2 separate regions of the Homo sapiens genome follow, and region 2 is linked to region 1. The links come from fine-mapping of genetic effects on gene expression. Tissue or cell type: whole blood. Region 1 holds a variant in brackets; the other region holds the start of a gene. All regions are shown on one strand. Distances are from middle to middle.

The links. PIP is the estimated chance that this variant, and not a neighbour inherited with it, causes the effect.
Region 2: GSTM3 starts here. The variant in region 1 is fine-mapped to the expression of GSTM3 in whole blood (INTERVAL, PIP above 0.99).

The regions. Positions count from the first base shown.
Region 1 is chr1:109,701,862-109,704,542 of GRCh38, reverse strand. No RefSeq gene overlaps it. Among named protein-coding and RNA genes, the nearest start is that of GSTM5, 9.0 kb to the left of the region's middle. The variant G/A (reference allele first, on the strand shown) is at 1,103.
Region 2 is chr1:109,739,525-109,742,205 of GRCh38, reverse strand. It overlaps GSTM3 (glutathione S-transferase mu 3), which reads left to right and starts at 1,168. Exons shown (of 9, transcript NM_000849.5): 1 at 1,168-1,253; 2 at 1,695-1,966; 3 at 2,298-2,373. The coding sequence starts at 1,919. RefSeq lists a silencer at 1,729-1,958.

The DNA.
Region 1 (2,681 bases):
GTCCATGTGTGAAGAAGGGTACAGAGAAGCAGGTTGAGTGAATGGCAAAGTGACTGGTTGAGGGACCGAAATGACAGGAGGGTGAGGGGCTGCGGTGGGGGAGGGCCTGCAGAATTACAGGTAAATTGTAGTTTGGTCTGGAGCCATTAGATGGCTCTGGAGGCAAAGCCTGCAAAGATTTGAAAAGGGAAGAGTTAGCATAGATATGGTGCAGAGCTGTCCGAGTCAGGGCCATGGGAGCTACAAGTATCAGGTCTTCATGAAAAGAAATAAGACCATCGGGGGTGACATTAAGCCAAAGTCACCGGAGTTAGATATTGAATCCTCAATATCGTTAGGTGGGGGAGGAGTAGGCGAAGGGAGAGGCTGAGCAGATAATGAAGCCCGAGTGGGAGAGGAAAGCTGTGGAAGAGGTAGAAGGTCGCCAGATTCAGAAAACTGTGGTAACTGCAGGGGGTCACGGGATTGGTATGTCGTTAGGATGGCACATACCAAGGCCCAATCACCCCAAACAGTGAAGGGAACATAATTTCCTGATGGGATCAGTTCCTGGAATTTTGCACCAACGCGATCCCATAGTTCCACATCTAATTTTCCCTTTTCAGGAAACCAAGGACAGTGTTCTTCCAACACCCTGAATAGGGTGACCATATTTTCCATGGGCACCCAAACTCCACCCTGTTTTAACAGGAGTTTAATATAGCAGAGATAAGCATAATATTTAGACTCCATGTGACCCATAGTTACCCGAGACAATACATAGAAAATTCACCAATCATCAGGGAGCCGAACAAGCGTTTCTGAGGACTGGACTGATGATCGTTTCTCCACACCTACCAAAGGGAATCAGGTTCCCACATGCACTTAGGAAAAAGAAAACCATGTTGGTGCACCAGATATTGGGGGAACCTGCCCCCAGTATTTCAATGTAGGTTCTTTCTACTTTCCATAAGTGTCGGCTGGCTGAGAAATAAAGAGAAAGAGTACAAAGAGAGGAATTTTACAGCTGGGCTGCTGGAGGTGACATCACATATCAGTGGGACCGTAATGCCCGCCCGAGCCTCAAAACCAGCAAGTTTTTATTAAGGATTGCAAAAGGGGA[G/A]GGGGTGTACGAACAGGGGGTAGGTACGAAGATCACATGCTTTAAAGGGCAAAAAGCAGAACAAAGATCACATGCTTCTGAGGAAACAGGACAAGGGCAAAATAGAACTCCTGATAAGGGTCTATGTTCAGCGGTGCATGTATTGTCTTGATAAACATCTTAAACAACAGAACACAGGGTTCAAGAGCAGAGAACCAGTCTGACCACAAATTTGCCAGGGCCAGGTTTTTCCCCACCCTAGTAAGCCTGAGGGTACTGCAGGAGACCAGGGTGTATTTCAGTCCTTATCTCAACTGCATAGGACAGACATTCATTCCCAAAGCGACCATTTATAGACCTCCCCCCAGGAATGCTTTCCTTTCCCAGAGTATTAATATTAATATTCCTTGCTAGGAAAAGAATTTAGCAATATCTTCCCTACTTGCATGTCCATTTATAGGCTCTCTGCAAGAAGAAAAATATGGCTCTATTTTGCCTGACCCTGCGGACAGTCAGACCTTATGGTTGTCTTCTCTTGTTCCCTAAATATCGCTGTTATTCTGTTCTTTTTCAAGGTGCACTGATTTCATATTGTTCAAACACACATGTTTTACAATCAATTTGTACAGTTAACACAATTATCACAGTGGTCCTGAGGTGACCTATATCCTCAGCTTAAGAAGATAACAGGATTAAGAGATTAAAGTAAGGCAGGCATAAGAAATTATAAAAGTATTAATTTGGGAACCGATAAATGTCCATATTAAAATGAAATATTTGCAATTTATGTTCCTCTGCTGCAGCTCCAGCCGGTCCCTCCATTCGGGGTCCCTGACTTCCTGCAACAAAGGCCATTTTTACTTTCTGCAGAAAGGGTACACTCGCCAGCAGTTTTACCACGAGAGTACACTGAACAAAGGAGAAAGGGTCATTTATAACTTGATGTGTCCACCCTACTGCTGTGTCCAGTTTCCACTGGCTGGAACGGGACCTCACATTCTGTATTTGTCCTGATTGGCTAGCAACTTAGAACTTTTTAAAAGAGGCAGAGGCAGAGGAGAACAAAGGAAGGGGGAACTCACTTGTGGAACGCTGAGAAAGGTAAAAACACCTTCAAATAAGGAAGAGGAACAGGCTATGACCTCATGCTTGTTTGGATCAGTATAAGCATGCCAGGGCAAGTATTTAGGCTAAATTGTGGGAGTTAAGAACATAAAGTACATTAATTTCTTTATTACAGCTAGCAGATATTTCAGAATATCAGCACCGGTCTTTGAATAAATTTTGCTTCTAAGAGAAGTTACGACTTATTCTTAATTAGATGGGGAGAAAAGTCTCTTTGAAGAGGAACCTCTACTTTACTTTTTACAGTATTAATATATTTGGTCATTCCTTTATTGAAACAACAATTGTCGAGATCCTACTACATTCCAGGCACTATGAATAAAATGATGCTTCAAGGACGCTGTATTTGCCCATCTCCAACTACATATCAGGTGGGAACTTCAGGGGAGAGATTTTGAAAATCAGGACACATCTTCGTGTTTTGGCACACTGAGAGGCAGTGGAGTGGGAGAGGGGTTGAGTGCAGGAGAGAGAA
Region 2 (2,681 bases), 38 kb before region 1:
TAGGGGCCTCGGGCAGGTCTCTTGCTCTGTCAAGGTCAAAACCCCTACTTTCCTAAATTCAACCATTGATTCTCCATCTTCATCTTACTTGATCAGCCACACTTGACATAGTTGATCACTTCTCCCTTTAAACATCTTCACATGGCTTCTGGGACCTTTTGTTTTCCTCCTACCTCCCTGGCCACTCCTTTTCAGACTCCTTTGCTGGTTTGCTCTCATTTTTCCCTAACCTTTACATGTTGATATGCCAGAGCACCTCAAACCCTTAGACCTCATCTCTGCTACTCGTGCTCCCATGGTGATCTCATCTAGTCTCTGGTTTCAAACACAGAGTGATCACTCCTGTACTTGCTGTTTCCCTTTTCCTGGAGTTCTCTCTGCCTCCTGCAGGTAGGAAGTGATTCGAGATAAGAGAGGGAGAGAACTCTTCTGGCCAGGATAGAGGGTGATTCTGAGAAGGCTTCAAGGAAGAAGTGAGCATTTGAGCACGGCTACTTGAGGAAGGCTAGGCCATGGACATTAGGGTGCAGGCAGGAGCAGAGCAAACATGCTTGTAAAAGGAACAGCAATTATTCTGTTTTATATTTATATCAGCCCATGGTGGCCCCCACAGCAGAGTGGCTTGATCTCTCACCTCCTTCAGGTCTTTGTTTAAAGATTAACTTCTCCATGAGGCCTTCTATGAACATAACCTTTAAAAACATAAATCCCCTTCCTACTGGGACTCCCCCAGTTCCCACCCTGAGACCCCCTATCTCTCTTCTCGATTTTATTTCTCTCCATAGGATGTGTATCACCACCTGACTTACTAGCTATTTACTATATATTAGTTTATTTCTTCCCCATTAGAATGTAAACTTCCTGAGGGCAGGGATTTTGTCTGTTGAGTTCAGTTCTGTATCCCCAGCACCTAAAACAGTGCCTGTCCATAACAGGCATGTTAAACATTGTTGGACAGATGAATGAGTGAATGAAAAATGGTAGTACCTTTCCTCCTCCAGTCCATCCTACACAAAGAGGCAAGATTAATTTCCCTAAATGCGTGAGCATTAGGAAGTGGGAGGGATTGGAGGAGGAAATTATAATAAGGAATCCATAAATTACTTAAGCCCATAAAACAAAGGTAGGAAACATTCAAGATAAGAGACCTCTTCTGGCCAGGATAGAGGTTGGTTCTGAGAAGGCTTCAAGGAATAGGCAGACATTTCAGCAAGGCTGCTGAGGAAGGATAGGCTGTGGAAATTAGGATGCAGGTAGGAGGATCACAGAGCAAACACTCCAAGGTGGGAAATGCAAGTGTGTGTAGAAGGAACAGCAAGTATTGTTGGGTTGGGCTGGCTTATGAAGTTGTGACGGGCTGAGGGAGAGACAGGACTGGAAAAGCACGTTGGGGTCAGGTTGCAGAGGTCCTTGACTGACAGAGAGGGGAGCTTGGTCTGTGGGGAATCTTCTGCTCTGTGTGGTCAGAGGCTGGTCTGACTCTCCGGCCTTGCCCCAGTCTTCCTATCCTTCATCCAGCCCCGGCTGGCTCGGTAAAAACGGCGCGAATCTCGCTCTCCCTGGGTAACTAGGGTCCCCACTGCCTGGCTAGTGGTGCTTTTCGCGTCTTCACTGGCACCATTAATGAATGAAGTCTGGCTCCCACCCGCGGGGAAGGGAGGAGCCTCAACCTCGGGTCCTTTGCTCTCCTGCAGCACTCCTGCCCGGGTCCCGCCTCGGGGTCGCCAGGCCCTGAACCCCAACGCCGGCATTAGTCGCGCCTGCGCACGGCCCTGTGGAGCCGCGGAGGCAAGGGACGGAGAACGGGGCGGAGGCGGAGTCAGGGCGCCCGCGCGTGGGCCCCGCCCCCTTATGTCGGGTATAAAGCCCCTCCCGCTCACAGTTTCCCTAGTCCTCGAAGGCTCGGAAGCCCGTCACCATGTCGTGCGAGTCGTCTATGGTTCTCGGGTACTGGGATATTCGTGGGGTGAGTGCCGTCTCAACGGTAGAGCCGCTCGGTCAAAGAGACTGACGCGGAGAGGGCGGGTCTCTGGGTCCGCGATCTCCAGCAGGAGCAGCTCTACGCGGGAGCCTTTTCGAGCTGCCGAGCCACGGATGTCGACCCCTGCCCAGCCTCTGGGATCGCGGGCCCTGTGGGGAGGGGCGGAGGAGACCACGCCGGAGCCGGGCCTAGGGGCCGCTTAACCACCGCCCCGGCAGGACGCAGGGACTCGGCAGCCCCGGGCCGGGGAACGTTAGCGGGCGGGGGTTGGGAATGGGTGGGAGCTGCGCAGTCGCTGAACCGCTGTCTTCCCCAGCTGGCGCACGCCATCCGCCTGCTCCTGGAGTTCACGGATACCTCTTATGAGGAGAAACGGTACACGTGCGGGGAAGGTAATGCCGCTCCGCGTGCCCGTGCAGCCAAGCTGGCCCTCCACCTGCCCTGGTCTTCTTACGCCCAGAGGGTGGTGGCGTCGCGCCAAGGCCGGGTGGGACGTTTGCCCCAATCTGGGTGAATAGAGACACATCCTTTATCTGGAACTGGGGGTTCTCTTTTTAACATAGCCCAAACCCGTCTTAATGCTTAACCAAATAGGGCTCAGAGGCTCAATGGTTATGCTTTTGGGGCCTGGGAATTTGAGGTATTGGGACCAAGTCATTTCTTTAGATCTTTTGCTCTTGTCAGGTGGGGTATTAAGGAG